Homo sapiens: one gene and its partners. The protein of the gene in region 4 interacts with the protein of the main gene of each other region in a biochemical or structural test. Each region holds a gene or a part of one and is shown on either strand. Other genes may lie near its edges.

Region 1 (3,500 bases), on a different chromosome or scaffold from region 4:
AGATTCTCCTGTCTCAGTCTCCTGAGTAGCTGGGATTACAGGCACCCACCACCACACCTGGCTAATTTTTATATTTTTAGTAGAGATACGGTTTCACCATGTTGGTCAGGCTGATCTTGAACTCCTGACCTTGTGATCCACTGGTCTCGGCCTCCCAAAATGCTGGGATTACAGGCATGAGCCACCGTGCCTGGCAATTTTTGTATTTTTTAGTAGAGACGGAGTTTCACTATATGTTGGCCAGGCAGGTCTCGAACTGCTGACCTCAGGTGATCTGCCTGCCTCAGCCTCCCAAAGTGCTGGGATTACAGGCGTGAGCCACCACTCCTGGCCCAGAAATTCTTAAACTTTAACATTTCCTCAACATCTCCATAAACTAGGTGGACATTTCTGTTTTTTCTCATTCTAGTTCCATCTTCTCCCTTTATTTTCCCCTCTGATGCCACTTCTCGTCAAAGCAGTACTGAGGGAGAAGGTCAAACTCTTTCATTTTATTATATATTTGAACAAAAACGTATTTCCAATATGTATACACTCTTGCATCTCTTTGAGAAATTTAATATACAAAATCTAAACTTAAAAAACAGATAAATGTAAGAGAGACAAATTGTTATTTACTTTATAAAAATAATTTGCCACATCTGTTTAAATAAAGAGTGTATTTTCCCTAGTTGAAAGCATTTAAGATGTGATTTGTTTTGAAAAATGTCATTTACACTCAATGTTTAAAAACATATCTATTGTATAAAGAACAATCTAGGTTTATTCACTTGGATTATTATAGTAACCACTGATGAGCTGTATGAAAGTGATAAATCTCAAAATACCTGCATCTCCCTCTTTCTCTTTGGATATGAGGTAAAATATGTTATTAATACTACCTATTTAACAAAAATATGCAGAATGTAAACTGAACACAACATGTGCACTGCTGAATACAACTTAGGAATAAAGTGATTATTGCAAGTTATTACACTTACAAAATGTACACTTCCAAATAAAAGAAGATTATCTAATTATCGTATAATTCAACAAGATCTAGGGAATTGATCTGGCAATATAATATGTTTTGTCTTACATTTCCCATTCAATTGTTCAATTGCCTAGATTGCCCAATTTCCTCATTGTAGCAGTTGTCTTCTGAATATAAATATAAGTCCCATTGTTAATCCAGGGACTTCCAAGCAGATGATGTCACTTCAGTTCACCATCTTACTGACTTAGGATCACACATACATTACGACTTATACCTATTTAGCTGAACATCACTCAGGTGAGGAAGCTAACTTTTGAAGGGTCAGACACCACATTTATTTAATATGCTCCATGAAAAAATTAGTCCAAGATAATAGTAGCACTCTTAGTATACTTTGCCAACAATGACACGGGCCTGAAGAACCCAGCACATGCCACCAAAACGACCAACGATGTAATGTGTACTTAGTTCAACCAGACTGTGAATGATCTGCTATGTCTACAGGAAAGATGGAACGCTAGATTACTTTAAATAGCTCTGACTTAGAGAACATACCTATGAAGATGAGGAATTAAAAAATCTTATAAAGTAGCTGTTCACATTAGTACCAGTATAGGAGACAGCCAAAATCTAAGTTATAAACAGGTAATGAAAAATCCTCAAGGACTAACTGAACCATGTTTCTCCCTACCTCACTTGTCAACATTCCCAAGTTCTCTCTTTACTAACTGCAGTTCTTTCAGGCACTTATAATCATCAAATGCAGTTCAAAAAGAAATATATCCAACAACAAGAATATTAAAAAAGAATTTCAGTCTTCTGTATGATTAGAAACTGTTTCAGCCCAACAGTCAGGAATAAAAAGGATTTAAACTAATAAACCATTAACTGAAAAACTGAGAGAGATGTAGAGAAATGTGAATTTAAATGTAAATTCTGCCATCAGGTAAATATAATATAAAGCTAGTAGTTATAAAGAGGAAGTTACTCTAATTACTTCTAAGTTGCTAGGCCAAAAATTCCACAATAATAATTCTACCTCCCAATTGTTGTTTTTCAGAGGTACTGAGTTTTGCCTAGTGCTTTGGTGATGCTTCATAATGTTTACAAGACACCATGCGTCCACTCCATGGAAATAATCATCAATGAGAGAAGCAACATCATCCTAATCAGTTGCACAGTTAAACAAAAAAAAAAAAAAAAAAAAAAAAAACGACATCACTGAAGTCAAGAAGCACAAAATGACAAATGGTCAAGTTCCAACAGCTAAAAAGATCCAAGACATTATGAGCTTTTAATGAGTGAAACATGCCATGAGAAAGAGACCTTCTGTCAATAAATCCAAATCCTTGTTCACTAATTAAACCATCTTATACAGTGTCTGAATATGTAGACACCAGACTTCAACATTTCTTAATTATATTCAATTCCAGGCATATTTTTCCATTTAATTGACATTCTGAAATGCCTTTACAGTCCTATCAGATAGGTACCAAATTCTCAAGAGAGATTACCACACACTTCTGAATTCTTATTCATTTGATTGAAACTGTTATTAGCAAAGGTTTTTTTTTTAAGTGGAAAGTGTGGGAAAGATTCACACCCCATTCTATCCATAACATGGGCGATGTTAAAGTCATCTGCATTTGGCCCACTTTCATGTGTACATTTCTTTGCAGTGAAGTTCTCCATAGCCAGGCCAATCTGAGAAAACCCTAGCTGCAAAATCCACCCTAGCATGGGACGGTACCACATGAATCACATAACACACTGCTCACCCAATCACAACAGCAACTGCTATCATTAAGCCACCACTTAGAACCAACAGAGAATTTCAAACCACAATCAAAAATAGATTTCAGAGGTCCAAAATATTGATCACATAGACTTAAAAAATCAACAAAATGTCATGTGTGATAAATGCTCTAGGTTTCAAAAAAGACCAAGCTGATCCTGCTACCAAGATATAGCCTCATTTTGCTTTGAAAGAAAACACACACAGACTTACATAGAATTTATCTGACAAAAAAAAAAAACCCTGATATTTATACTGTCATTAAGCACATTTGTCACTAAATTTAATCTGTGTCATCTGGCATACTCTTAGATGTTTACAATTATCAAATAATGTTCAATGATATTTAGTAGCATTAATAATTTGGGGCTTATCTCAAAATATAAAACATCAATAGCTGCTCCAGAGTGCTCACTTTTTGACCTTCCATGGTACTGAAAAGGCTACAATTTTTTTCAGATTGTTTGGAATTTAATTTAGTTGAAGTCCTGAAGTTACAATTAAACTTCCACTTAACCTTTCATAACTGTGCCTCATTCAACAGCTGGGCTTATCTCCAACATCTCAAAAAAGAAAAGAAAGAAAGAATTAACTGAAATATTATTTGCAACTGCTCTGAAAAGTACAAGTAGGATCAAGTCATAGAGAACGTCCAAGGTAAAAGTCTGCCTTTTCACTCACATTCTGGAAGCTAATGTTACTTTGTAAGCCATTTTTTACAAATTTTTT
Region 2 (3,500 bases), on a different chromosome or scaffold from region 4:
GCTGGCGTGAAAACATAGCATCGGGAAAATCGGTAAAGCAAAGTTAATCCATCCCTTCTTATATTGGTTCTGGCTGCTATACCATGATTCCTTTATTTAGGCAAGATGTAGAAGCAAGAGAAACAAAAGCCAAACCTCCATCAGCCCTGTCCTAGGTCAGTCAGGGGACTCTTCATTTAAAGGCTGACTGGCAATGCCATATGATTAACAATTACAATTTGCCCCTGAAGCCTGAGTGGTCCATCTCTAATACCTGATTCTAGGCTGAGACATGAAGGGAAAATTTTAACAGCAACACCAACACCAAAAACAAAAAACACGTAAAGGAAGCAAGAGATAGATAACCTAGTGAGCTAGGAAAAAGAAGGAAGAAAAATACGCAGAGGGCTTCTGCTACATTACATATCCTGGAGCGCACGTGTAAAAGTCCCATGAATGTGCCCCGTGTGACAAAGCTATCCTCCACATTAATACAAATCTCTAACCTCAAAGAAACAGAAGTATTCAGGTTGTCTTTGTCTCTTTAACACAACCACAACAGAGACCTACTATCATGTTCCCCAATTCAGGCAAGGGCTAACTAATGTTCCTTGGATGTGCTGTTTAGATGCTGCAGTTGATCTGCAATGTGGATTTTAAGGTGATCCAGAGATCTGGGATTTTACCATTGCTGTGGCTGGTACACTCACAGTCCCAGAACCAAGCAACACACACTAAACAAGAGGGAACTCAAAAGTCTGACTGGCATACCCTAAACTCATCAGGTATTGCAGGCCACTCTTATTATTATTACATAAATAGAATCTCTCCTGATCTTCAAGGCCTTCCAGGTGACCCTCATCACTACATTTCCAAAGAGCTGACTAATTCTAAATGCCTTAAATTCCCCAGCAGTCCCCAAAGGTGTGTCACCATCCAGCCTGTTTTTCATCCATAGAAAGCCCTGTTTACAGGTATAACCAAGCAGGAAATGACAAATTTTTTAGTAAAATCATTTTTAATTAAAACAAAACTTTCTAGGCCAGGCATGGTGGCTTATGCCTATAATCCTAGCACTTTGGGGGGTGGGAGGACTGCTTGAGCCCAGAAGTTTGAGACCAGTCTGGGCAGCATAACAAGACCCTATTTCTACAAACAATAAAAAATGAGCCGAGCATGGTGGCGCACACCTGTAGTCCCAGCTACTCAGGAGGCTGAGGTAGGAGGATCCCTTGAGCCCAGGAGGTCGAGGCTACAGTGAGCCATTATCGTGCCACTGCACTCCAGCCTGGGTGACAGAGCAAGATCCTGTCTCAAAAAAAAAAAAAAAAAAAAACTTTCTAGATTACACTGAAACATGTGACTGACACCAGGCTGCAATATCAATAATATAGGACTAGAAACATTTTAGTGAATAAATGTCCCACCAGAGAAGTTCACTTCAAGTGACATTATAATATTCTTAACAGAAAGAACTTGGGCTGGGGGTGGTGGCTCATGTCTGTAATCCCAGCACTCTGGGGGAGGCCGAGGTGGGAGGATTACTTGAGGCCAAGAGTTTGAGACCACCCTGGTCAACATCAAAAGAAAAAAGAAAGAAAGAAAAAAAAAGAGTACATAAAGTACATAAAAGACTCAAACACATTCTATTATAAACATTAGGTATCAAAATAATAACTCACCTGTCTTTTAGCTTCTCTCAGTTTTCTTTTGAGGGCTGTCAAAATTCTTTGTACTTCCCATAATCTTTCTTCTTTAGACAAATCCTTTATCCCACCCTGCAGATCTCGATGTAAACAATTCAAAAGAAACTCCTAGAAAGCAAATGCCACACACCTAGTTGCATTTCATATCCTCTTATCTTAAACTAACAACACGTGCAATTTCTAAAGATGAAGAATCAACTATTTTTCAATTATCCTTTATTTCATTAGAGTAAAATAATGGCACTAATTATTTTTTTGAAGATATGATTGAAAAATCATTCTTATTGTTTTGCCTATTAATTATTCACTAATTTGTATTGGTTCAATAATACTTAATCCACATCCCCATCTCCAATGTCATCATCATTAACTAGTAAGCATTGGGAGCTCAGGGCAGATACAAGGGAAGAAAAGCAAGCAGGGGTTTGATAAATTGCATGCAAATAAATAATCAAATGTAATTAACTTTCTTATTTAGTCTTGAATTACACACACACACACACACACACACACACGGCATTGTTACTTCCATCAAAATAGCACAGTAAAAAATCCCAGGATTTGGGCTCAAATCTTGGGTCTGTAATTAGTAATCATGTCACACAGGGTAAGTTACTTAACTTCCCTGAATTTTAATATTCTTATCTATAAAATATGGCTGATGACAGCAACCTTGTCAAGAAAAGGCAAACATCTTTAGACTATTTACAACGTGCCTGGCATGTTTCATATATTATCTCATTTGGGGTAATCTTCACATCAATCCTATAAGAGGATCCATTTTAAAGCAAGAACACCAGTGCTTAAGGTGGTTAAGAATTTGCCTAAAATCAGTTAACTAGATCAGAGCAAGAATTTAAAGCCAGGTGTTTTGATTCCAAAAACTATGCTCTTTCCACCATGGTATTCTGACTTATTTGGCATGAAACAGTACCAGATGGGAATTTCTGACTTCAGTGTGCCTAACATAGCTCCAGACACACAGAAAGTGTTCAGGAAACAAGAGCCCATCACCACTGGACTCCACAACAGCCAATGCAGAGGCAGGCTGTGGCAGGCAGGGTGCACACACCTGTCTCCTGATCTCCTCCTTGATGCCCGCCTGGGTCTCTGGCAGCGTGGGCATCGTGGCCATGTTAGACCATCGCAGAGGTTTCATCACTTGCTTTAGTACCACATTTCCAAAGAGTTCTTGCACATGTGTGAAAAACACATACAGGACTCGATTGCTGATCTAAGAAAAAAAGATTTACAAGAAAACCATTAAAACTATCATTCTATTTCACTTATTTGTGTCTATTACATAATATATCCTTTAATCCTGGACACATAAAGAAAATTCTACCCAGTAATGACAACACAGTCTTTGCTAGTTAATAGCCAATTTAAGAAGAAAATGGTAAAATATGAGTTAAATCATGTATTCAAGCACCAGAAAGATCTGAAGGGAAAAAAAGTCAAGAAAAGGATAGAGAAGTTGATGCCATCCATTTGTTTATTTTTTCTATCACAGTATTAACTGATTTAAACATCTTATTTTTTGTGTGTTTTTTGTTGTTGGTGGCGGTGGTGGTGCTTTTTTGAGATGGAGCCTCGCTCTGTAGCCCAGGCTAGAGTGCAGTGGCACAATCTCAGCTCACTGCAACCTCCACCTCACGGGTTCAAGCGATTTTCCTGCCTCAGCCTCCCCGGTAAGCTGGGATTACAGGCGTGTGCCACCATACCTGGCTGATTTTTTTGTATTTTCAGTAGAGACGGAGTTTCACCATGTTGGCCAGGCTGGGCTCGAACTGCTGACCTCAAATGATCTACCCA
Region 3 (3,500 bases), on a different chromosome or scaffold from region 4:
TGGTCATGAAACAGTTTTACCAAAATATAATTCATATACTTATTTTACTTTAAACCTGAATATTACAGTACATTATATAAAAGATAAATGAGAATAAGGAACTAAATTATTTCTTACGATGTCAGAAATAATATACTTAAAAAGGTGTAGACCTTATTTTCAATCAAAGGCACTATCTGGAGAGTTAACAAGCTGCATCATGTTCAGAATTGAGAAAAAGTTTTTCTCCTTCCCAAATAACTGGCTGATTAGTAGAAACCTGTCATCTCAGCAAACACTGAATACCTAGTATCTAGCCAAAAAACAAACAAACAAACAAACAAACAAAAAAGACGGTGGGGGCAGAAATTGTGTAAAATTACATCTTTGACTTCTTTTCCCAGGATTTTTTTTTTTTTTAAAGAGACAGGGTCTTGCCATGTTGCCCAGGTTGGAGTGCAGTGGTTATTCTTTCACAGGTGTGATCATTACACACTACAGCCCCAAACTCCTGTACTCTAGTGATCCTCCTGCCTCAGCCTCTTGAGTAGGTGGGACTATAGGAGTGTGCCAATTTCTAAAAAGGCTGTTGAAGTGTTTTCTTGATCTAAAAGTGTCTGTTTCATTAACTCAATGCAATTTCCATTTTATTCACATCACTTGTATCCTCTACTCTCAGCTTGTCAACCCAGGATGGCAATGACACCAGGAAGGTAACTGTCCCAAGGGAGCAAGCTTTCTTATTATGAGTCATTTCATTCACTTTTCTCCCCTGAATATACTCAACTCTAAGTGTTTAACTTAATAACATTCAAATATCACAAAATGTCAGTAATTAAATAAAATTCATCGAGAACATTGTTCAATGCTTCAAAGTCTTGAACAACATACTTACATTAATTTGAATGAAAAGGAGTCAAACCAAGGCATAATATCCTATTGCATCCTAAAGGCCTGGGAGATTTTAAACTCTTCTAAGGTGTATTTGAATCAGATCTTCAAAGAAAAGAGTGTTATTTCTAGTTTTTTGTTGTCCAAATTACAAGAGTTTCAACGGATTAAGGTTTCCTTACCATGATTCTTTTAACACCTAATTCCTAATCAGAAATGGTACTTAAGAATATCAACGTTTAGAATTCAAACATGATTCTAGAAAATTTCTTATCTTAAAGTCAAACTATAACCTTTACTCAATAAAGCATACTCTTAAAGGTCTGTGATGCATGCTTTAAAGAACAGTGATGGGATTCTGGAGTTCTTTCCTTTCTTTCTCCTTCTCCAAAGATACAGATATCTTTCTACAGTTTTCTATGGAATAAGAGACTTCATCATATAAAATGGCTGGCATGTTTTCCCTTTTGAATAGTTCTGATTATAATATCCACCATGAAATTTTACGTTTCCAAATCATAAGCTTAATAGCAAAAGCAAACAATTTGACCTACCACTGAGCTAAATTGAAGAAGAAAAACCTGCATTTTAGAGTATCTGTTATCAAGGGTTAGCAAACTTTTTCTGTAAAGGATCAGATAAATATTTTAGGCTACCTGGGCCATATGGTCTCCCTTGCAATGACTCAACTCTGCTACTGTAGCACAAAGCGGCCATACACAATATTTAAAAGGGTGAGCATGGGTGTGCCCCAATAAAACTTTACTTATGGACACTGCAATTTGAATTTCATATAATTTTCATGTGACACAAAATATCAGTCTTTGGAATTTTTTTCCCAACTATTTAAAAAAGTAAAAACTGGCAGCTGACTGCAATAGCTTGTAGGCTGCACTTTGCTGACCCCTGGTCCAGATCATTCAGATTTCTTGATGTGAGGGTCAAAGCAATAATGTGGCCATGCATCATCTCACTTCACTTGGACATTGATAGCTTTCTGGGCTGATAGTATAGAACTCCGAACAAAAATCCCCAAAGCACAAGACAATCCTACGAGTAAGTAGTATCTACACTCACAGACTGTGTAGAGCTTGTAAGTGTTGATACTCATCTATCTATCTGTATATATATTCAGGAAACATTTAAATCAAATTCATTTAAATTATGTTGTCAAAAAAGCAGGGAATTGCCAGGTGTGGTGGCTTACGTCTAGTAATCCCAGCACTTTGGGAGGTCAAAGTGGGTGGATCACCTGAGGTCAGAAGTTTGAGATCAGCCTGGCCAACATAGCGAAACCCCATCTCTACTAAAAATACAAAAATTAGCCAGTTGTGGTGGCGTGCACCTGTAGTCCCAGCTACTTGGGAGCTGAGGCAGGAGAATCGCTTGAACCCGGGAGGTGGAGGTTGCAGTGAGCCAAGATCGTACCACTGCACTCCAGCCTGAGTGCAGTGAGACTTCATCTCAAAAAACAAAAATAAAAACAAAACAAAACAGAGAATTGAGAAATTCTTCAGCTGAACCCTTTCAAAAGCTTTGGTGTTAGGGAGATCTAGGTTAAAATCTTGGCTCTTGCTGGGAGCAGTAGCTCGCACCTGTAATCCCCACACTTTGGGAGGCTGAGGCAGGAGGACCACTTGAGGCCAGGAGTTCAAGACCAGCCTGGACAACACAGTGAGACACCTGTCTCTATATTAAAAAAAATCTTGGCTCTGCTACTTACTAGCTTGTAACCACAGATAAGTTATTTAACCACCAGAATTTAGCCTGGTGTTAAGGACAGACACGCAGGGGTATGTTTTCAATTTCATTTCTCAGGCAAGCAAATAGCTACAAAAACCTTGCTGGAAAGCCTAGTCCACAACGTACCTGAAGGCTTAACTCCTAGTTTTTGACAGAAAACTACTTTTATCTCTTCTACTCTATTTCATATTTTTTTTTTTGCCGCATGCAACATACTGTGCAAAACTGTGCCTCCATACATACTGAATTCTACTTTTCTCTTCCAAGGCTTTTTCCATAGGTTAACAAAATGTTTTTTTTTTCATAGGCTAACAAAAATGAGAGTAGAAAGTACCCAGTCAACATATTCATGTCGTCTTTCCATAGTGCAAGTATAATTTGGGTGTTTTCTCTAACTTATCAGTGACAGGCATCCTGTTTTCTAGGAAATAATATCTAAATGATATAGGAAAAACTGGTAGGAAAGGATTCTTATGGCTTTATCTATAGAACAAAAACTAGAGATTCTGAAGATCATGTTAATAGATTATTTGTAGATATAATTGCTATGTTTCTTGGACCTTAGCCCATTGCTTAAATTATATTCAGTAGAATATTAGCACTAACTAATATGTGCTATAACCTCTTCAGTCATGAAAAATTTAGTAGTTACATACACATGAAATAAAAGATTCCACCAACAGTGTTTTTGAACAGGCATCAGTTATGAATCTGCTAGTATTGAATGCTAAGCAAAATACTAAAGCTCTTAAAACATTAGTGTTTTATTTTTAACTTTTAACCTATTATTTACAGAAGTCCTGTTAGATGCTGAAAGCAGTCATTTTGCAACATGTATGTTCTTCATATAAAATGATGTTCAATGTTAGGTGGTACAGATTTATAAA
Region 4 (3,500 bases):
GGGTTAAATTCCTGGTCAGTTCTATGCCACAAAGAGCACAAAGTGTACTCACCTGTACAGAGTTTTGTCATGTTCACTGAATTGATTCTGAGAAGTGGGTTTGGGACCAATGATGGGAGCACCTGAAGGTTTAGATGCTACTTCTGGAGGCTGTTTAAAAAAAAAAAAAAAAAAAAGACAAATATGCCTAAGGAACAGATAATTAACAGAATAGATATCATGTAATGGCGGAGGGGAGAGCCAAGAAGCCTTTTAAACGGTGTGCCCATGCATCCAAGGCACTAAAGACATATTTACCTTAAAACTGCCAGTGTCATTTACATCCTTCTTGGTCTCTAAGGATGCAGATCTTTTGTTTTCAAACATCTTAACTCTGGTGAGTACAGACTGTGGCTTCATTGCTGGATCTTCCTCTTCTTCGGTTTGAGTTGGGGGTGGAGGCAGTGGTTTGGTGTTTGAAGGCAGAGCTTCTGGCTTATGCTGAGATGAAGGTATCAGCGGAGGGACAGCTGCAGCACCATGGAGAGGCTCAAAATGACCTGCTCTAGAGGTAAATCCTTGGGGTGGTACTTGCTCGTAACTGCGTGAATATTGCTCAAAATACTGCTTGGACTCTGCAGGCTTGGGCCCTGCTGAAGGGTGGGGCTGGGCTTCCGGTCTGAGTCTACCATGTGTGTCATACCCAGGAGCTGGCTGCTCTTCGTGCCGCAGGGCGGATGCTCTAGGTGCCTGTTCGTAACGTGGTCTGCTGTCGTAAGACAGAGGGGCTGGCTCTTCAAAACGTGGAAAGTACCCTCGTTCTGAGGACTCTTCGGGATGCTGTCTGGAGTCAAGGTCTTGAGAGTGCTGATTATCAAAAGGTGGCCGAGATGGGTAGGGCTGTTTGTCATCATAATATGACCACTGTTCTTCATACATGGGGACGCGATCTTCGTATCGCAGACGATGTTCATAGTTTCGAGAAAACTGGTCCGTATAGCTTGAGGACTCGTATCTGTATGTGGGCTGCTCGAGGTCTCTGCTGGCTTGTTTCTCTACGTATGGGAGTTGGGGTTCATAGGTCAGATTAGGCTCTTTGTCTGGCCTGTGCCCTGGGTGACTAACGGCTGGCTGTTTCAAAACATGGTTCTGCCTCATCATTTCCTCGGGATATGGATCCTTTCTATACACCTGTATAAAAAATTCACATTTAAGGACAAAGTCTTGTTTCTAATTCTAGTCTATTTTATTAGACTGTGATTAAATATTAAACTACGATTTAATATGTGAAAATGGTATGTTTTACCATTTATTATCAGGATAGACAAGATTAGTGGAAAAAGCTGGTTTAAGTGAAAGCTCAAAATTTATAATGCAGGTAGGGGCTTTTATGTTTCAGCATGTACTAAATAAACAGTGAGTTAAAGATAAATATTAAATTTAGTAGAAAATTAATGCACTATTGATTACACTTCATTTTGACACTGAAAAATCCTAAAGAAGATTTATGGGCATCATAATTTGTATTAACATAAATATGTTTATGATGGGTTTCGATTACATATTAAGGAATTCTGGAAGATACTGAAAGCCAAAAATAAAAATAATAAGCACAAATCTCAATTAAAAGGCCTGTTTTCAAATAATCAGTATACCAATGGAAGCCATGCAAACTACGAAACTGAAATGATTTGTATTGATTTGAAAGCATTACAGTGTATAAGCCTGCAGTAAAAAAGCAAAAGGAACACTTAAAGGGCAAAGCAAAAATGATCATGTGCCAGATTGATGGACAGCAACAAATTAGTGCAACACCGCAGCACAGGTACCTTTGTTGGATCTACATGCGACGACAATGATGGTTCTTGATCTCTTAGCATTATGTGAGCTGCCTCAGTACTTGGTGTTCTTAAAGAATCAGCTTGTGGTGAGTAAGAGGTGGAAGGAGCTGGGGTGGGCTCCTCCAGTCTGACATTAGTTAAATTTACATTATGATTAACAGCAGAGGTTGATGATGCTGGGTTTGTTTCAGGCGAAAGGTAAGGGACTGGAGATGAAGCTTCTGCTTTCTGTGAAGTGTTTAAAATATTTTAAATATAGTGTTTCTGTTTACTGCTAACTTTCCACTTCAATTTATAGTGATTGGTAGACATACATTTTAAGTGTGCTGAATAACAAAATTATGACCTCATGTCCTAAACTTTTTGGGAAAAAAAAAAAATCCAGTACATTGCTGTGTTAAGACAAACACACAAAATTTAGAATTAAGCCCTTGGTACTCTCAAATTGAAATTGAAGATTAATTCTTAATCTGGAGAAAGGACAACATATATATTTTTAACTCAATCACCACATTCTAAAATTTAATAATGCACCTCTATCTACAAAACGTTGAATGCTTGCTGCTTACCTGTTGAGAGGCTGGCTTAAATCCAGGGGAGTCTATTCTATGAATTGGTTGTGGCTGCGCTTGTGGTGAGTAAGGAGGATATGTTTGGTTTTCATGATGCATTCCAGAGGAGTCCTCTCTTACAGGCTCAGAGGACCGTGTAATGGCAGACTCCGGTGGAGTCCCAACCTCATCATTAAGAGTTTCATCTAGTTCTTGATCAGTGTAGGCCCCGCCTTCTGTGTCTGTGTCTTCATAGTCAGAAGTGTGTCTACTGTCCGTGCTATACATTGAGTATTCACTACCTGGAGCTGACAGGTAGGACAGACGATCATCATGCAAATCAAGGTCATCACTTGTAGCACCATCCGCCTGGGTCAAATAAAAGTAAATTACAAATTTTATTCAGTAGTTCTTTAAGAGATGGCCTTTATCGTACAAGGCAGATTGAAAAGGATATCTTTCTCTGGAGAAGTCACATCTACTTCTTGAAACTTCTGGTAAGGAAAAGTCAAGAAGATTGTACAAGCACACACGCAGACACATGGAGCACCCCTTGAGATCTGAAGGGCATGGATGAAGGAAACAGTGGCCGGTAAGCCAGGACAAAGTTAGACTCCAGGGCCCAGCCCTGGAAGACAACGAAGAAACTCTGACACTGCTCAGATTTATAAAACCTACTCACTAGCTCTTCAGCCCTTTTAAGCAAGGGGAAGAGGGAGAATGTTACCAAACTAAGCTCACAGAAACAAGGACACACTGACAGAATAGCACATGGAAGAATACCTATGAAATAAACCCAACAGTTCAAAAGTTGAATAAGAGCTAATATATTTATGTTTAGGAAACAACTGATATGGTTTGGATTTGTGTTCCCACCCAAATCTCATGTTGAATTGTAATCCCCAGTGTTGGGGGAGGGGCCTGGTGGGAGGTGACTGGATCATGGGGGTGGTTTCTAATGGTTTAGCACCATCTCCCTCACACAGTCTTGTGATAGAATTCTCCCAAGATCTGTTTTTTTAAGTGTGCAGCACCTCCCCAACTCTCTTCCTCCTGCTCCAGCCATATAAGACATGCTTCCTTCCCCTTCCGCCACGATTGTAAGTTGCCTGAGGCCTCCCCAGAAGCA
Region 5 (3,500 bases), on a different chromosome or scaffold from region 4:
TTTCTTTTCTCTAGCTTACTTTAAGACTACAGTCTATAATACATATAACATACAGAATACGTGTTAATCAACTCTTTGTTATCAGTAAGGCTTCTGGTCAACAGTAGGCTGTTAGTTAAGTTTTTGAAGAGTCAAAAGTCGTATATGTGTTTTTAGTTTTGTTTTGTTTTGGAGACGAAGTCTCACTCTGCTGCCAGGCTGGAGTGCAGTGGTACAACCTCAGCTCACTGCAACCTCCACCTCCCGGGTTCAAGCAATTCTCCTGCCTCAGCTTCCCGAGTAGCTGGGACTACAGGTGTGCGTCACCACACCTGGCTAATTTTTGTATTTTTAGTAGAGACGGGGTTTCACCATGTTGGCCACGATGGTCTCGATCTCCTGACCTCGTGATCCACCCACCTCAGCCTCCCAAAGTGCTACAATTACAGGCATGAGCCACTGTGCCCGGCCATATGTGGGTTTTTAACTGTGCTTGGGGTTGGTCCCCCTAACTCCCGTGTTGTTCAAGGTCCAACTCTAATGGGAAATATTCACTAGTTATTTCAGACAATGTCGGCGAAAATGTGTTTCTCCACACAAAATTATTTTGCATAAAACTTAGGATAGGAAAATGGAAATGTACTGGAAAGGAGAATAATCAAGAAGAAGAATAAAAAGAACAGGTATCACTGATGGAAAGAATTCTGTCAGTCACTTAACATAGTATGTGCTCAATAAAAATTAGCTGTGAGGTTGACTGATGATATTAATACTGCTTTTCTGTGACTTGCCCTCTACTTTCCACAGAACTCATCCCAAGAACAGTATCCATAAGGAAGATGGAAAAGGGGGACAGAATAAATGTTACCCTAAGAAGTCCAGAGCAACATGGTACCTGATTAGCTGTTTCCTCTTCTGGCTCCTGAATATTAAAGACAGTTGCACTGTCAGCACCTAGCAGTCGACGAGCCATTCTTTCTTCGTATGTTAACCTCTAAACAACGTAAGTCACAAAAAATACAAAATTAGAAAAAAATCACAAATATGTACTGCCCTATGAAAAAGAGTAAAAAACAACACACTTTCATGATTTTCTGTAAGTGTTCTCTCTCCAGCTTCAGATACCTGCATATTTCTTTTTCTTGCTTCAGTTGTTCTACCTTTTTACCTCCCTTTCTAGTACTAATGGCCTAATCCAGAGAGCCACCAATTGGTACAGCACAAATTTAAAGTGAGCAATAAGCGACAAGGAAGAAACCACACAGAAAAGATTTGTCATGTCCTTAATGAAAAACATGGAAAAAAAGATATTTAAACAGCAAAATACAATTTAAAAGAAATGTTATTTTTATAGCCATCCATCAGCTTCAGAACACCCAAGTCAGCTCTAATACTGACTGAAAGAAAAAACAAAGATACTCAAAAGGAGAATAAACTGACTAAAAAAAGAACAGGTATCGCTAATGGAAATAATTCTATCAGTCATTTAACAGTATGTGCTCAGTAAATGTTTAGCTAAAGGAAGATGTGGATGAGCTGGCAGTGATGGGGTTCTTACCTCTAAGAGCATTTCCCAGGCTGCTGTGTAATGTAGGGGATTGGCGGCAACTATTATAATCCACAGAGAATGATGCACATGGCTGAATTAGCAACAGGATTACACAAGACACTTGCCAAAGCTAACAGCCTCAATTGACTTGACCCAGAAGCAGACTGCTTGCCCATCAGGCAAAGAAAGTGGTAGTGTTCTTGCATCTCGCAGCTAGCACTTTGGAATTGGCCCAAACCGTTTTACCTATGCCATTCTTATACATAAGAAATGCCGGCATTTTTGTGTGACTGTTGGGGTGATACCTGCTCTTGAATACTCATTCTAAAGTGCCTTAGACTTACAGGTTTGGAAGGAACTTTCAGATACCACCTGCCTCATCGGGAGCATTTTATAAGCAAGTGTTTGATTAGAAATAGAGAATAATTGGTAAGGCAGAATCTAAAAAATGTACAGAAATTATTTCAGATAAACTTCCAAACTTCTAAATATAAATGCAAATTTGATTGGAAGCTCTCTAATCAGGAAAATATGTTGGGTAAATTTACAATTTCCAGTAATTGCTGATCTCAATCCCAGCTGAAACCGGGAAGTGAAACAAGTCAAGTGCCAAATGACAAATAGTCCTGCAGTTCAAATTATTTCACTTAATAAAGAAAGGTCAGAGGACAAGAAGAGGCAGAGGTAGGAGTCTGAGGGCGGCATGAAGCATCTGAGTCCACTATGTTATTAAATTAATTTTCTCACACCTATTAAAAAATCAGTGAATTCAATTTTCAAAGAGAGTCTTAAATACCTGATCTCTTAAAAAGCTTCCCTAATCTTTTCACGGAGAATTGTAACACATCAAAGGCAGGCCTGGAGTGATTTTCACTCTGTTCCTTATAAGCAGAAATATCAATTTCATATCTATTCCTTCACCAGAATGCACCTGCTACCACTAGAAGCCAAATATACTTCACAGTTTTTTTTCTAAGTCACTATGCCATCTGGCTATAAAAGCCCGTGTCTACAGACACCAAAGATAAGAAAGAGAATGATATATAATATTAGGAAAAAGTTGGTTGAGAATCCCATTTTCTAAAAAGGGAAACCTTACTTGTCATTTTAAGCTCTCAAGTGTGGATACCTGTGGAACTTACTGTGAATGTTATTCACTGCTAAACAGATGAATATAAATATACATACAATATATATAATGTGGGTTGACCAATAGCTTAAGGAAGTCTTACCTTAACCAAGAGAATCTTAGTTCATAAGGAACATTGACATAGACAGCCAAAAAGAAAAAAAAAAAAGCTGGAGTGATGCCTTACCTGGCTTGAAAAAGTTCCCATATGTATTTATTTTAATCTTTTAAAAGATTTAGTTGACAGAGCCAGGGAAAACTTCCAGAGTATGTACATTTACACATGCAATCACTTATTTCAGGGAGAAAATATTTTCCTCTTGTGAAAATCTTCTATACTCAGTGAAATGAGTAACTAACACAAAACTTCATTGAAATTTTAATCTTTCTTAATCAGATTAAGATACCCTAATAAACTAAAATCAGCATTCAGCACCCCTCCTCTGCTCTCCAGCTTTCAAGTGTGGTCTGTTCTCACAGTTTTACTTATCAATGTTTGATAATTAAAATTCTCAGAAAACATAATTATAGAGAGCTTTCTACTCTGAAAAAGGTGTCTGAAAGGGAGATTTTATACAAAAAGATCCTTGTCTTGTACTTAAGAGCCAGGCAAATTTTTCCAGTGACAATTCCTTAATAAAGCTACAGAAGGTTCCTCTCCTTTACCTGGTAAGTCTTATTTTCTAGATTTGCTTTTCCCATCCCCTTAAAATATTCTGGAAATAGTATTTTAAAAAGAAAAGAGTATTTTAAAAGGATAGCATCAACAAAAGAGATGAAAAAACAAACAAAAACTGATGAGGAAAGACTTAAATCCAGTGGAGAAAACATCTTATCTATATA
Region 6 (3,500 bases), on a different chromosome or scaffold from region 4:
GGCTGGAGTGCAGTGGCACAATCTCAGCTCACTGCAACTTCCACCTCCCAGGTTCAAGCGATTCTTCTGCCTCTGCCTCCCAAGTAGCTGGGACTACAGGCATGTGCCACCATGCCCGGCTAATTTTTGTATTTTGAGTAGAGATGGGGTTTCACCATGTTGCCCAGGCTGTTCTTGAACTCCTAACCTCAGGTGATGTGCCCATCTCGGCCTCCCAAAGTGCTGGGATTATAGGTGTGAGCCACCGCGCCTGGCCCCAGGTTTTCTTTTATAGTGTCCAGAATGGCCTATTTCATATATAGAGCTGTGGTTAAGCTTGGTCTGAACCAGTCCTTTGCCATGATGTTCCTAGGAGCCAGAGCGCAGGGGCTTGGGTTCTGCATGGAGCAGATCCTTTCACTGAGAAAGTTTGCTCATTCAGGTATGCAAGGAGCTGCACCGCTTTGAGAAGCTGATGGAGTATTTCCGGAATGAGGACAGCAATATTGACTTCATGGTGAGGAACTGGGCCTGGGTCCAGCACATACCCACCAGGGCTGTGTGTGTGTTCCTTGACAACAGGGGTGAGGCCAACAGCGTATCTTGATATTCCACGTAGAGCCCAGAATGATTCTATTCAGCAAATGCTTCTTGTCCACCTGCCTACCCCAGAGAGCTCTTAGAAACTTCAGGATATCATTTGTGTATATCAGATCTACCTCCTTTTCCTCTTTTCTGTGGCCTTTTTGTCCTTGAATTGGATCCTTTTTGAGCTGCCCTCCCTTTCCTAAGCTCTTCCTCTAGCTTCTCTTCCCCTCACTGCAGGGTCTTTGGCTAGGTAAGGTTGTCTCGAGGAATACCTGTTGATGTACAAAGGAAATCAGATAGCTATATCTTCACTTACATCTGTTTTTCATGTAATTTACTTGTCTTTATACACTGAATATTAAATGACATTTTTAAAATTAAAATACTCTTATTGCCCCCATAAAGACTTAACTCTTTAATTGACTCCCTGTAATTATCCACATGATGATGATATTCTAACAGCCGCCTATCCTCCTGGTCTCTTGCCTTTCCTCTGCCCTTCCTGTTGCTGCTTCTCTGGGCCTCCTCTTCTTCAGGTGGCCTGCATGCAGTTCATCAACATCGTGGTGCACTCGGTGGAGGACATGAACTTCCGGGTCCACCTGCAGTATGAGTTTACCAAGCTGGGGCTAGAGGAGTTCCTGCAGGTGAGCTGGCTGGGGTCCTTGTAAGGTGAGGTGCTTTGGGATCAGTTTAGCCGTATCACAAATGATTTTTCTTTTATAAGTGCCTAATCCTTGATGCTCCTGGGACCCTGCCTGTCTTCTGTAGCCTGGGACTCAGGACCTCTGCAGCTAACTCCCCAGTCAGGCAGCTCCATGGGGGCGAGAATCTGACATGGCCTGCAGCAGGAACTCTTTGGGAAGTGGTGGCGAAGGGGGATGAGGACTAAGACTTTCTCAGAAAGTTCCCCTGATGATCTGCCTGCTCCTACAACTACTCCTACTCTCTGCTCTTCCCCCAGAAGTCAAGGCACACAGAGAGCGAGAAGCTGCAGGTGCAGATTCAGGCATATCTGGACAACGTGTTTGATGTCGGGGGTTTGTTGGAGGATGCTGAGACCAAGAATGTAGCCCTGGAGAAGGTGGAGGAGTTGGAGGAGCATGTGTCCCATGTAGGTGGTCTTCCTTTGCCTGCCAGAGCCACTGTTGATGGAAGCTCAAGTAACCAGGAATCCTGAGCTGACCCATTTGCCTCCAGATTGAGTCCCAGGGAGGCTTTAGAACCCACCAGGGCTCTCAAGAGCATACTCAGGCCTGAGCCACTGGATCATCCACCAGTTGGAATACACATCGACCTCCAGGGCTGGGCATGAGGTGGCATTGGTCTTGAGACAGTCAGAATGTGGCCTTTGTCTTGTATCTGTTATTGGAATATAAGGGAACCACCTGACTAAGCTGCCTTTGTGGCCTTGTGTTGAGGGGTCCGACTCAGGTCTTGACTAGGGTTCAGGCTGTGCTGAGTGCCCAGGCTTTAGGGCCAGCACAGAACCTGCCCTTCCTGTTGTGCAGCTCACAGAGAAGCTTCTGGACCTAGAGAATGAAAACATGATGCGGGTGGCAGAACTAGAGAAGCAGCTGCTACAGCGGGAGAAGGAACTAGAGAGCATCAAGGTACAAGTACTCTGGGGAAGGCAGTCCCTGACTGATCCTGGGCTCCAGCGCCTTGGGGTTCTGCTTTTTTTCCCTGAGTCATATCAAGTTCTCTAGGATTTAGATCTTGATTCACCCTTGAGGTACTCAGGTGTGGGTGGGCTGATGATTTCACCCCATTTTTTTAGTTGGAGAGGAAAGGTGGGGCCAGTGTGAGCCAGACACACACATAAGAGGGTGGGAACAGCTGGGGCACCCACAAGCATTCTGGAGTTCCAACCCAGGCCTCCTCCTACCAGCCCATCCCATTGATTTTTCTCCCCTCTACCCCCGTGTTCCTCCCCCAGCCATGTTTAATGAGCAGGGGCAGAGTGACCAAGTGCTCTGTGTATTAGGATGTCCACCAGGTATCCTAAATTGGCAGGGCAGGTACTCTTCATATTTCATTCTCTTCTGTATTTTCTCCTGACTTTTTGTTCATTATAAAGTCATGCCCCCATCCTACTTTCTCTTTCAGAAGAATATATGCTGGCTCTGTTGAGCTCAATATGTATCTGCCCAGCTTCTGCTGAGCATTGTATTGGGAGCTATGGAGGATACAGAGATGGTTAAGACAGGGTCTTGTTTATAGGGGGCTTCCAATTGAGCCATTATACAAGGCCAAGTGAAATTAAAGCAAAATGAGGCCCAAAGGGTTATGGAGAGAGCCGCTATGTCAGACCGGTGGTAGATTAAGGAGAGTTTCACAGGGGCAACCTTTTTTCCTGGGCTTTGAGGGGCCCATGCAGTGAGAATTGGCTGGAGCAGAGAGGACACTTCAGGGTGCCAGCGGAGGGAGGCAGCTTCTGCTTGCCTCTTTTGTTTTGCTGCCTTCCAGCTTCCTCATTCCCCCACCTGGGTTTCTGCCACTCTGAGCCTCTGAGTACCCTGACAGAGACCCTCGTTAAGAGAACCCTGGGTAGGAATTCTCACTCTTGGGGCAATGACTATGCCTTCAGCCCACTTTTCCCTTAATGGTGCTGTCTGCCTGCCAGGAGACATATGAGAACACAAGCCACCAGGTGCACACCCTGCGGAGGCTCATTAAAGAGAAGGAGGAGGCCTTTCAGCGTCGATGTCATTTGGAGCCAAATGTCCGGGGCCTGGAGTCTGTGGACAGTGAGGCCCTGGCCAGAGTAGGCCCTGCAGAGCTGAGTGAGGGCATGCCACCCTCCGACCTGGACCTTCTGGCTCCAGCCCCACCCCCTGAGGAGGTCCTGCCTCTTCCTCCACCACCAGCTCCGCCCTTGCCCCCTCCACCTCCCCCATTACCAGGTAACCACGACGACCCCTGGGAGCCAA
Region 7 (3,500 bases), on a different chromosome or scaffold from region 4:
AACCAGACACAAGACACAAAAACCAACTCTGGGAGGTCCTGGAGAGCTATGAAAAGCAGGCAGAAAGTGGAGGGGAGTTGTCCCCTGAAAGGAGAGAGCTGCACCAACTAAAACAAGTGTTTCTAAAAATGGCTAGAGCACAGGTAGAAGTTGTGATCCTCCCAGCTTGAAGAGTCCAAGATAGGGCTTGGGGAGGGCTGGGTGGCTGAACAGTGAGGGGCATATCTCAGAAAGGAGGTCACTGGGGAAGAGGCAGTCGTGAGATCTGTTAGTAAATTCTGCCTAGGTCCTGGCCAGTGGTGAGCCATCCATGCACAGAGAGACCCCAGAGTCCAGCAGAAGGAGGCAGCCGGAAGGTCAACAGCACCAAGCAGAGACTGCAGCAGAGATTTTCATTTGAGTCCAGACAAATTAACTTCCAGAACAAAAATCAACACTCTTCAGAAAAAAGAAGTCACTACAGTTACCATCTACAATGTCCAGTACACCATCAAATAACACTAGATGTTCAAAGAAACAGGAAGATGTGGCCCATAGTTGGAAGAAGCCAATAGAAATTGATCCTGAGGTAATGCAGGTGTTGAAATTAGCAGAAAAGAACATTAAAGCCGCTAGTATGTGTTCAAAGATTTAATGACAGTATGATCACAATAAACAAATGACAGAGCAGAGAAATGGCAACCATAAAAAATAAGTGAAAATTCTAGAAATAAAAACTACTGTAACTGAAATTTTAAAATGCACGAAACTTAATAGCAGTTTGAAGATGGTGAAAAATTACATATCCAAGAAGTTCAACAAACCCTGAGCAGGACAAATACAAAGCAAACCCTCCTAAGAACATCACAATCAAACTGCTGGAAGCCAAAAATCCCAGGAGGAGCTTGAAAGCACCTCATCATATAACATAAAGGAGCAACGCAGCTACCAGAGTGACTGACTTCTTAGAAACAGCAAAGGGGCAACATGACGAGACTATGAAAAAATAAAATGAAAAGTAAAAATTGCCAGTTGTGGGGGTGCATGCTTGTGTTCCCAGCTACTCAGGAGGTTGAGGCAGGGGGATCGCTTGAGCCCAGGAGTTTGGGGCTGCAGCGAGCTATGACTGCACCACTGCACTCCAGCCTGGGCAAAAGAGTGAGACTCCGTCTCTTAAAAAAAAAATTGAACAAACATCAAAGAGATCAACAAGATGAGAAAAAAGAGAATTAGAGGATCAACCTAGGAGGTCCAACCTCCAAATAAAAGTTCCAGAAAGAGAAAACAGCAAAACTGAAAGAAAATTATCTTTGAAATTTAAAAACTTCTATCCTCAGACTGAAAGGGCCCACGGAGTGCCCAGCACAATAAACGGAAGCAGATGCCATTATCGGGCTTCTCAGAACACTGAGGGAAAAGAGCCGCTTCTATGAGCTTGAGGCAGGAGAGATCACACACAGAAGAACTGAAATCAGAATGGCGTCAGACCTCAACAGCACAGAAACCAAATGCAATGAAGCAACATTTTCAAAATTCCGAAAAAATCATTGTCTAAAATTTTATACCCAGCTAAGTTAAAAGGTAATTGGAGAGTAAAATAAAGATGTTTTCTAAATCAAGGACCAAAAAAAATACCTATGTGATGTTTCTTAGGTATCAAAAGAGTAGGACTTCAGCAAAACGAGGAGTGAGCCAAGCAGAGAGAGAAGAGCAGGACCCAGTGCACAGGGAGCCCCACAGATGGAGGACAGCAGCGGGAAATGCAGGTGACAGCGGCGCAGCAGGTCTCCTGGAGACCAGGGCAAACGAGAGCAGGGAGAAGGCTCCAATCCCAAAGGGGTGGGGATGGGGCTAGTGTCCTGGATGCAATGAAAAACAAACCATTTTGATAGGTGGGTGACTAGAAGATGCTAATCCACAGGGCTGTGCGAGAGGACCTGTGCTCAGGGCACTCCTTGGCGCAGTAATGAGCAATGCTTACAGTCACACAAGAGCAAGGACTGTCGATTTCACCAAAAATGCAGTGATTATGATGGCACATAGAGGGACAGGGAGGCTGGTGGGACAGAGGAGAGCTAAACCTCCCCACGGCCTTTGGGAGAAATAAAAAAAGAATGTCTTAAGCTTTAAAGGAGCAGCTTCAACAGCAGTAAATGCCTGAGAAAACAGACCACTTAGGATCCCGCCTCTGGGGGCTGCGGCCAGGCAGGGCAGGAGAATGCCTACAACTGGACGCTTCAATCCACAGACTCAGCCCTTTTTCAGGCATGCTGGAAGGACAACTAAGATCACTGCTAAGGGACACAAAGATGTAGGAAAAGATATGTGAGTAGAGTGTGTATGCGTATCGGGTATCACCATGATTACAGAGTTGGGGACAGCAAGTGCATGGAAAAGCAGAAAGAAAAGAAAAACAGAAAGAACAAACTAGATGTTTCTTTTCTCTTTCACTGAAGTCCAGACCTTAAAAGACACAGAAGAAGGGAACTTCTAACACAAGAGTTCCTTGCCCGGAGCCCGAGGCAAGAGGCTCCTTCATGGAAGAATCTAGGCAACTTCTGCAACGGTGGCCCCCAAAACCACAGGTAAAACTGCATGAGCACTGTGTGGAGTATCCAGTTTGGAACTGGTAACGACCCCACCTCCTAAAAAGGCACAGCATGAGTGACCTCCCACAACCTCTCATGACTGGGGCTTGCATCCTGAGCAAGGCTTGTCTTCCTTCCCAGGACACCTGTTTCCAGGATGGCTCCCGCCTCTCCCCAAGGGCAGGGAAGTGAAACCACAGGGACCTTCCCTGGACAAACCCTGCCCATCCCAGAGAAGAGGCATGAGACGGGTGCTCCTCGCACACAATGGGAAAAGTGAAGTCATTTCGAAGACAAGTGAGGAGCCTGCTGTAGGCTGAATAGCGATCCCCAAAGATATCCAGGCCCTAATCCCTGGGACTGTGAAAGCCATACGGCAATACGGATCTGCAGATGTGAGTAAACTAAGGCTCCCAGGACAAGGAGATTATCCTGGAAATTTGAACATGGCAGAAGAAGACAGAAGCTAGGCGCGGTGGCTCGTGCCTGCAATCCCAACCCTTTGAGAAGCTAAGGCAGGAGGATCACTTGAGGCTAAGAGTTCAAGATCAGCCTGGGCAACATAGTGAGACCCCATCTCTACCAAAAAAAAAAAACAGAAAAAATTAGCTGGGCATGGTGGCACATGCCTGGGGTCCCAGCTACTCAAGAGGCTGAGGCAGGAGGATGGCTTGAGCCAGGAGTTCAAGGCTGTAGTGAGCTATGATTGTGCCACCGCACTCCACCTGGGCAACAAAGTGAGACCCTGTCTCTAAAAGGAGAAAATAAAGAGGAGGAGAAAGACAGCGATGTGACAATGGAGGCAGGGCAGGAGCCGGGAGCCAAGGAATGAGGCCAGCCCCCAGAAGCTGACCAGGGGGGCAGTTTTCCTCCAGCCCCCAGAAGCTGACCAGGGGGGTGAACGGCTCTCCTCCAGCCTCCAGAAGCTGACTG

What was found.
Region 1: the proteins of TJP1 (region 4) and FAT3 interact in a test that uses a peptide from one of them, tested with the Homo sapiens proteins (one large-scale study listed by IntAct).
Region 2: the proteins of TJP1 (region 4) and RALBP1 interact in a test that uses a peptide from one of them, tested with the Homo sapiens proteins (one large-scale study listed by IntAct).
Region 3: the proteins of TJP1 (region 4) and EVI5 interact in a test that uses a peptide from one of them, tested with the Homo sapiens proteins (one large-scale study listed by IntAct).
Region 5: the proteins of TJP1 (region 4) and PALLD interact in a test that uses a peptide from one of them, tested with the Homo sapiens proteins (one large-scale study listed by IntAct).
Region 6: the proteins of TJP1 (region 4) and FMNL3 interact in a test that uses a peptide from one of them, tested with the Homo sapiens proteins (one large-scale study listed by IntAct).
Region 7: the proteins of TJP1 (region 4) and RGS12 interact in a test that uses a peptide from one of them, tested with the Homo sapiens proteins (one large-scale study listed by IntAct).

The regions. Positions count from the first base shown.
Region 1 is NC_000011.10:92,231,318-92,234,817, reverse strand, and holds part of FAT3 (protocadherin Fat 3 isoform 1 precursor), read right to left. Parts: intron 1-3,500.
Region 2 is NC_000018.10:9,524,013-9,527,512, reverse strand, and holds part of RALBP1 (ralA-binding protein 1), read right to left. Parts: intron 2,920-3,500; coding exon 2,758-2,919; intron 1,794-2,757; coding exon 1,662-1,793; intron 1-1,661. UniProt on the Homo sapiens protein: Multifunctional protein that functions as a downstream effector of RALA and RALB. As a GTPase-activating protein/GAP can inactivate CDC42 and RAC1 by stimulating their GTPase activity.
Region 3 is NC_000001.11:92,509,109-92,512,608, forward strand, and holds part of EVI5 (ecotropic viral integration site 5 protein homolog), read right to left. Parts: 3' UTR 1-3,500. UniProt on the Homo sapiens protein: Functions as a regulator of cell cycle progression by stabilizing the FBXO5 protein and promoting cyclin-A accumulation during interphase. May play a role in cytokinesis.
Region 4 is NC_000015.10:29,717,969-29,721,468, forward strand, and holds part of TJP1 (tight junction protein 1), read right to left. Parts: intron 2,741-3,500; coding exon 2,390-2,740; intron 2,049-2,389; coding exon 1,809-2,048; intron 1,171-1,808; coding exon 298-1,170; intron 151-297; coding exon 53-150; intron 1-52. UniProt on the Homo sapiens protein: TJP1, TJP2, and TJP3 are closely related scaffolding proteins that link tight junction (TJ) transmembrane proteins such as claudins, junctional adhesion molecules, and occludin to the actin cytoskeleton.
Region 5 is NC_000004.12:168,892,052-168,895,551, reverse strand, and holds part of PALLD (palladin), read right to left. Parts: intron 1,067-3,500; exon of another isoform or gene 974-1,066; coding exon 875-973; coding exon of another isoform or gene 787-874; intron 1-786. UniProt on the Homo sapiens protein: Cytoskeletal protein required for organization of normal actin cytoskeleton. Roles in establishing cell morphology, motility, cell adhesion and cell-extracellular matrix interactions in a variety of cell types.
Region 6 is NC_000012.12:49,651,906-49,655,405, reverse strand, and holds part of FMNL3 (formin-like protein 3), read left to right. Parts: intron 1-421; coding exon 422-496; intron 497-1,103; coding exon 1,104-1,214; intron 1,215-1,531; coding exon 1,532-1,681; intron 1,682-2,078; coding exon 2,079-2,180; intron 2,181-3,193; coding exon 3,194-3,473; intron 3,474-3,500. UniProt on the Homo sapiens protein: Plays a role in the regulation of cell morphology and cytoskeletal organization. Required in the control of cell shape and migration. Required for developmental angiogenesis.
Region 7 is NC_000004.12:3,296,021-3,299,520, reverse strand, and holds part of RGS12 (regulator of G-protein signaling 12), read right to left. Parts: intron 1-3,500. UniProt on the Homo sapiens protein: Regulates G protein-coupled receptor signaling cascades. Inhibits signal transduction by increasing the GTPase activity of G protein alpha subunits, thereby driving them into their inactive GDP-bound form.